2 linked regions of the Homo sapiens genome follow. The protein of the gene in region 1 purifies or fractionates together with the protein of each later gene. This does not show direct contact. Each region holds a gene or a part of one and is shown on either strand. Other genes may lie near its edges.

What was found.
Region 2: the proteins of ASB11 (region 1) and UBE2F purify together in Homo sapiens (affinity purification with western blotting, with the first as the bait; one study listed by BioGRID). This does not show direct contact.

Annotation. Positions count from the first base shown.
Region 1 is NC_000023.11:15,312,633-15,316,941, reverse strand, and holds the start of ASB11 (ankyrin repeat and SOCS box protein 11), read left to right. Parts: upstream 1-1,301; 5' UTR 1,302-1,336; coding exon 1,337-1,517; intron 1,518-2,382; exon of another isoform or gene 2,383-2,455; coding exon of another isoform or gene 2,456-2,573; intron 2,574-4,309. UniProt on the Homo sapiens protein: Substrate-recognition component of a cullin-5-RING E3 ubiquitin-protein ligase complex (ECS complex, also named CRL5 complex), which mediates the ubiquitination and subsequent proteasomal degradation of target proteins, such as BIK, DIRAS2 and RPN1.
Region 2 is NC_000002.12:238,025,902-238,029,718, forward strand, and holds part of UBE2F (NEDD8-conjugating enzyme UBE2F), read left to right. Parts: intron 1-3,817. UniProt on the Homo sapiens protein: Accepts the ubiquitin-like protein NEDD8 from the UBA3-NAE1 E1 complex and catalyzes its covalent attachment to other proteins. Together with the E3 ubiquitin ligase RNF7/RBX2, specifically neddylates cullin-5 (CUL5).

The sequences.
Region 1 (4,309 bases):
TGGGCACCACCTTTACCAATGCTTGAAATGCAAGTGAATGATCAGGAGGGAACCTTGCCATGGGACCTTGTCCCAGATGGAACTACCATGGCGAGTAGTCTGATGCTTCTAGTGTGACACTTACTTGGAGAGGCATCCAAGATAGGCCTTTTATTAAATACAGGCTTGGCCGGGTGCAGTGGCTCACACCTGTAATCCTAGCACTTTGGGAGGCCAAAGTGGGTGGATCACCTGAGGTCAGGGGTTCGAGACCAGCCTGGCCAACATGGCGAAACCTCGTCTCTACTAAAAATACGAAAATTATCCAGGCGTGGTGACGCATGCCTGTAATCCCAGCTTCTTGGGAGGCTGAGGCAGGAGAATCGCTTGAACCCAGGAGGCAGAGGTTGCAGTGAGCCGCGATCGCACCATTGCACTCCAGCCTGGGCAACAGAGTAAGACTCCATCTTAAAACTAAATACATACATACGTGCATACATGCATACATACATACATACAGCTTTAGGGTAAATTGTCTTTTTTTTTTTTTTTTTTGAGACAGAATCTTGCTCTTGTCACCCAGGCTGGAGTGCAGTGGCGCGATCTCGGCTCACTGCAACCTCCGCCTCCCAGGTTCAAGCAATTCTCCTGCCTCAGCCTCCTGAGTAGCTGGGATTACAGGCACCTGCCACCACGCCCAGCTAATTTTTGTACTTTTAGTAGAGACGGGGGTTTCGCCATGTTGGCCAGGCTGGTCGCAAACTCCTGACCTCAGGTGATCCGCCTGCTTCAGCCTCCCAAAGTGCTGGGATTACAGGAGTCAACCACCGCGCCCGGCCAGGTAAATGGTCTTTTTTAACTGGTCATATTTTAGATTTGGATTTAATCCTCTATAAACTTCAGAATTAAGAGAAAATGAAATGCTCCAGGGAGTAGTATTTCCCACTTAGAACATACAGCATATTTGCACTTCTTTTGTATGTCAAATAACTTGCTTTGTTTCTGTGGAAGCCAAGAAGTTTCTATCTTTCCAACCCTGCTTTCTAACATAAAATAGGAAAAATAGGGGTTTAGGAATATAAAATGTTTGGATATGAATCTTATCTGTTAGATAGTACTGAGTTATGTAGTTCTAGAACTATTGGATGTTTCTGGTTAGAAGGAAGTTTCTTTAGTTTATTTAACACTGCTGTGGAGTCAGCACATGCAGTCGCCAAATCAGTTAGATTAGAACCTACAGAGATCTCGGTAACAGGAGCACTGAGTGCTAGAAGGTTTAAAATAGATGTCATATGATACCAATTATAACTCAGTGAAATTTTACAGTCCTAGGACCCTATACAGAGCATAAGCCAAAATGGAAGATGGTCCTGTTTTCTATGGCTTTAAAAACATTTTTATTACAATGTTTGCTACGTTTTTTTTCTTTAAGCTTTTAATTAAAGTTTTTTTGGCTCTCCTAACCCATTTCTATATCGTCAAAGGAAATAGAAAAGAAGCGGCTAGGATAGCAGAAGAGATCTATGGTGGAATTTCAGGTAAAAGTACATGAATTTGTTCCTAATATTTAAAGAAAATCCCTCCTAGATAATTCATATGACTAGTATTTCTGGAAGGCAGATTATATTTATACTTTGATTTTAAGTGGGTAGTTTGAAAAATTGTCACTTAAAGTAGCAAATGCTGTTGGCTGCATCAATTTGTGGAGGATTTTCAGCTTTATTTTTTGCAAGTTCGTAGATCTTGTAGCAGTTGTTATTTAAGAAGTAAATAGGTAGTGGCTTACTAAGAGTATTTTGAGAAACTTCATTTCTACTAGCCAAAGTAATTACTTGTATATAATTATTTTCTTTAATATTTTAAAGCAAACTTTAACAATGAAGGGCATTCTAACCAGACTAAATTCTCTCAGGAAATAGAATGACTAATAAATTATAATTAAAGCAGCAAACGTGGCAAGCTATGTGTATTTTTTTTGCTGTCATTTGCAACTGGAATTGATTAACCACTTGTCACTGTCAGGAAAAGCTCTTCACTAAACCCATTTTATATGGTAGCATGCAAAGCACTCCAAACAAAGTTTATTCTAACATGAAATGCCAAGATTTGGGCAAAACATTTTAAATTCTCATGCTTTGTAGAGAATAGTGTCCATTTCTTTCAAGAAATGATTTACTTTAATTGTGGTGAGATGCTACAAAAGTAAATGAGTCAGATATCCCTGTCACTCCTGGGATTGTCACTTAATAGAGGAGTATTTATTCATAAACAGAGTTCAGAATTTCCCCGTGTATTTTTAGTGTTTGCAGGGGTTCCAGGATTACATCATTCTTTATCTAGTATCCATTTCAATTTGCATCCAGGATTCTCTTTCAAAATAGTCTTATGTGATTCCAATACACTAGACAACTCAGAAGACACTAGACAACAGCAGTCTTATCTAAAGAAATAAGACCTCCAAGGACGAAGCATCAGAATGCTTCAATTAACTGGGGAAAATGAGAAGAATTGTGAAGTTTCAGAACGTATCAGAAGGTCCGGACCATGGAAAGAGATTTCTTTTGGGGATTATATTTGTCACACATTTCAGGGAGGTATGTTACTTTGACTAGTTACAAAAAAAAAAAAAAAAAGTAATGCTTCTGATAAGTTTCAAGTTAAGCATGATCTGAAAAGTTATCTTCTAATTTAATTTGTCAATTTGGGCAAGGGCTTTCTAAAATTTTCAATAATAGTTTTGGTGTTCTCATAGATAAATCATTCTTCTGGTCTAAATTAGATGAAGTCCAACAAAGTCAATATTGGCAAGAACATGTTACAAATGTTTTCTCCTGTTGCACCTGCGCATTATTTCTGTCTTTGTGGTCTTTAATTAAGTGCACTCTTTTTTTTTTTTTTTTTTTTTGAGATGGAGTCTCGCTCTGTAGCCTAGGCTGGAGTGCAGTGGCACCATCTCGGCTCACTGCAACCTCCGCCTCCCAGGTCCCGGTTGAAGCAATTCTCCTGTCTTAGCCTCCTGAGTAGCTGGGATTACAGGCACACGCCACCATGCCCAGCTAATTTTTTTGTATTTTTAGTAGAGACAGGGTTTCACCATGTTGGCCAGGCTGGTCTTGAACTCCTGACCTCATGATCCGCCCGCCTCGGCCTCGCAAAGTGCTGGGATTACAGGCGTGAGCCACCGCGCCCGGCCTCAAGTGCACTCTTAAAAAAGGTATAAAACCTCCTTATAGTCAAAACCCATGTAAGCATGGTTTGAATTTAATCTGGAGCTGGAATACAAATCTCTTAAATACAGTTCGTTCATTCTGTAGTGCAAATATCTTTACTTGTTCAATCTCTTAAAATAGGTTAATTTGCAAGTAGCATAGTATTCTAAGGTCAAAAACATTTTTCAATTATTGTTAAAGAGGCAGGGAATGGTGCATGTTAATTTCCCAGTTTTATTTCTTTCATATATATATGTATATGTGTGTGTGTGTGTGTATACATATACACGAATCCCCCCACCCCCAAATTTACCAAGATTTGGTAAATAAGACTTTCTGTTTTTTTGTTTGTTTTGAGATGGATTCTTGCTCTGTCACCCAGGCTGGAGTTCAGTGGCACGATCTTAGCTCAGTGCAACCTCCTCCTCTGGGGTTCAAGCAATTCTCGTGCCTCAGCCTCCTGAGTAGCTGGGATTATAGGCGCACGCCACCACGCCCGGCTAATTTTTGTATTTTTAGTAGAGATGGGGTTTCGCTATGTTGGCCAGGCTGGTCTCGAACTCCTGACCTCAAGTGATCTGCCCACCTTGGCCTCCCAAAGTGCTGGGATTATAGGTGTGAGCACCTGTGCCTGGCCGCTAAATAAGTCTTTCTATAAGAATGTAGGCAGTAACATGCCTGGACCAGTATTTTTCACATGGTTCTGTGTTTTTCTTTTGATACCACTGTTAACAGTCAGATACTATATTATTACAAATCTTCCCCCGCCCCACAAAATACTTAAAAAATAACAACTCTTTATTCAAAACCCAGTCCTTTAAATATTAATGCAACTAGGCCAATACACCTAAACAATAAATCCTCCTCAACCCCTCAGTCTCTCTAATTCCTAAATTATCCCATAACAATATATTTAGGTGTATTAAAAATCAAGAACAAAATTTTGTGGAAGTGTTAAACTCAAACCAGAAATCAAACTCAAACCAGAAATCACCTTTGCTTTTGGTCACTTTTGCACTGGTCAGACAAATGTTTGTTGGGAAAATATATGACATTTAATCAGTAAATTAGCTAATTGACTTACAAAAGTCCCAGCCCAAGGTTAAGTTTCTTGAGTCTGC
Region 2 (3,817 bases), on another chromosome or scaffold:
TCTCGGAGCTTCATGCCTGCTGTGACTTGTGTCCCTGATCCCTGGCATGGGCAGAACGTCAGGCATCAGTGATTTCTCCTCCTAAGGCTGCTGGAAAAGTTGTGTAGGTGGATTGGTTGGTTTTTAAAGTAAGTTTCACATTTGGGCTTTATTTTTTCTGCACTTTGTCCCTTTCATCACTTTAAGGCAGCAAGGTTGATTGCAGGGGCTTTGATATCAGACCACCTGGACCTGAGTCCAGCTCGCCGCCCCCGCCCCCACCCCTGCCCGGCTGCCCGGGGCAGCTGTGGGACTTTAGGCTAGGTATTTGAACTGTATGTGCCTCACACTCAGCCAGTTTGGAAAGTAGGCACAAAGTGTTTTCTTAGCACATTTCTCCTACTTTTGACATGAAATGCAATTAGTGGCCTAAGTCATTTCTCATGCTCAACTTCCGTATCTCTTTTCTTTCATTCCTCTCTCCTTAGTAAACACTAATCACCTTTGAAAGGAAATGTGTAAACTGTGGCTGCTGGAAATCTTACCTCAGGATCCCTTTCTCTTTTTTTTTGAGATGGAGTCTCGCTTTGTTGCCCAGGCTGGAGTGCAGTGGCGCGATCTGAGCTCACTGCAAGCTCCGCCTCCCAGGTTCACGCCATTCTCCTGCCTCAGCGTCCCGAGTAGCTGGGACTACAGGCGCCTACCACTACGCCCGGCTAATTTTTGTATTTTTTAGTAGAGACTGGGTTTCACTGTGTTAGCCAGGATGGTCTCAATCTCCTGACCTTGTGATCTGCCCGCCTCGGCCTCCTAGAGTGCTGGGGTTACAGGTGTGAGCCACCGCGCCGGGCCGGATGCCTTTCTCTTCACAAGTACAGTTAGTGCCCATTTGCCCATTTCATTTTTGTATATACTGCTCCTTCTTCAATATCAGCCTCGTTTTTCACAGATGGTTAAAAATACATTTTACCAGACATACCTTTTTAAAAAAGCATCTTCCCTTTGAAGTATCTGTCCTTTACGTATTGAAACATTAAAATTCCACTATCTTTGGTTGCAGGTTATAAATGTGTTTGGCCCAGGCCCCCACTGCCCCGCTTCCTCCTGTGCTTGTGAGGACACCTGGCTCACTTTCTGGGGGGCCATACTCTACTTCCCTGTCTTGTCCCTGCCTTAGTCAGAAATGGGTCCAGAATAGGAAGCTCTCTTGTCCCTTTTGCCGTCTTCTGGGAAGTCAGATGATTAGCAAAGCCTTATAAGGATGAACAGATGGTATCCTGATATAAAAGCCAGACGTCTTAAGGAAAAAGATTGTCAGATTTGACCATGTAAAAATTAAAAACACAAAATGGAAGAAGAAATGATCAACTGGATTAACATCCTTGGTATGTAAATAGTCCTTACTATTCATTATAAAAAAGACGGATACTTCTCTGGAAAAATGTGGCATTGGCTACAAATAGGTGATTCATAAAAGGAGAAATAGAGGTGGGCAGTAAATATCTGAGGAGATGTTCACTCTCATCAGTAACCAGAGAAAGGCGCAGAAGACCATGAAGTGTGGCTTACCACTCACCAGATTGGCAGGCACAAAGGTAGATACTTGGTGGCTGGGGGAGGAGTGTGTGACAGAGAGCGAGCAGGCTCTCTTGTTGGAGGGTGTGTGTATTTGCACACCTTTCATTGGTCCTTCAGCCACGTAGACTACCTGTAACTCGTATGTACCCTTGGACTTGTCAGCTGCACTTCTAGGGATTTAATCTAAGGAAATAATGTGCCAGATTGATGTACGGGGACCACCTTGTTAGTGAAAAGCAGACAGTGTCCAGTGGCAGCTTTATGGTGTGTCCCGAATAAAGGGAAGGAAAAGCCCAACCGCACCTCTGGTTTGTGGTGACGCTGACAGCAGCTCATCAGCCCTTCCCACAGCAGGACTGATGGGTGCCTGGGGCTCCACAGGCCTTTCAGTGCTGGCACACAGGAGCACCTTCCTCTTTTAGAGAGATTTGCCCTGGCTCCACCTTGTTGTCCCGGCAGGGACCCTTCGCCTGCTCTGGCACAAGGTCAGAGGCTCCATGTCTGTGGGATTGGAGGGCCTAGGTCAAGAGCTCAGTCAAAGCTTCTCCTAGAGTCCAAGCTTCTATTACAGTTCGTGGGGTGTCCTTTGTCTCCTTGCTTAATGACATCTCTGATAGCCAAGTGTCTCTGTCTCCTGAGCTGTTGCTGGGACTATCCTCTGTGAGGCCAGGCTAGAACTTCCTCAGTGACTGGAGGCACTGCACCCCTGATGGGCCTCACTGCTGCCCAGACCAGTGGCCACCACATGCTGGGGCCGGCCTTGCCTCCCCATTACCTGCCCCAGCCAGATGCAAAGCCCTCCTGCTCTGGCTGTGCTGTTAACAGCAAAGCTCAGGGTGAGCTTCCTTCTCCTTCATTCAGCTAATGTTGATTGAGCTTAGGCACTGGCAGAGGAATTAGCATTCCCTGCTTTTATGGATGAAACAGGCATTCAACAAATAAATGACAAATATATAACTGAAGGTTGCATTAAGATCTATATAAGAAAATGATTAGCTAGATCAGAAATAATTCCTCCATTCAACAAAATATAGCCACTAGGATTTGACTTCATTCCCAAAAAAGTTATTCAGAAGTTGACAATTCAGATCCACAAGTCACCAATACCTCTGTAGGGTAGAAAGACGTCCACCCAGTTGGTAGGATACATGATTTGAGTTTTCCTTTTTTCTTTTTAAGGCTAAAAGTAAATTTTAATGGTCAATTTAAGGTTAGTTATCTGTTTTTTTTAACTGCTCTTCACAGACAATTAAGATTATAGCTTTGATTCAAACTCTACATATTTTTCTCCTGATCTGAATTGACTTTTGTGAATTTAAACATGCTCTAATTCAAAAAAGTTTATCAGAGGTAACAATTATGGATAAAGCCTGATATTTTATTTACAGATCAAAGCCACAGCACAATAATTCAACAAATACAAAAGTAATTTTATCTCCAGAAGGAAGCTTGGCAATAAATTATACTTTTTTCAAAGTATGGAATGATCATTTAATCCTTTTAAAATTATTTAAAATTTTTTTTTTACTTTTTAAGATTATTGGGAAAATGCTAATCTTCTCTGTATCATCCCAATTTGAGCATATGTGCTGCGGAAGTGAGCACTGGAATGATCATTTCCATGAGAGTATATGGTGTGCCTTTACAGCTGATAGACAGTAATGACCAGGACTCTCAGGTACCAGCTTCAGAAACAGGGCTTCATCAGACCTCTGAATCCTGGTGTGCCTTCCCTGAGCATGGGCCCCCCACCTAAGGAGTGATTGATACTCAGAATTTTGCATTAATCTTTTATCCTCAAGCTTTTTCTTTTGAACTTTAAAAAAATAAAAAAAAAAACCCAGTTACGGCTGGGCGTGGTGGCTCACGCCTGTAATCCCAGCACTTTGGGAGGCCGAGGCGGGCGGATCACGAGGTCAGGAGATCGAGACCATCCTGGTTAACACGGTGAAACCCCGTCTCTACTAAAAATTCAAAAAACAAAATTAGCCGGGCGTAGGTGGTGCATGCCTTGTAGTCCCAGCTACTCAGGAGGCTGAGGCAGGAGAATGGCGTAAAACCGGAGAGGTGGAGCTTACAGTGAGCCGAGATCGTGCCACTGCACTCCAGCCTGGGAGACAGAGAGAGACTCCGTCTCAAAAAAAAAAAAAAAAACCCAGTTATTAAAATGTCATATGCTGGGAGCTCCCATTGTTGTTAACCTGCATCAGCAGTGTTTCAGAATGTCGGTGCCCGTGAGCTGCCTGGGTTGGAAGAACAA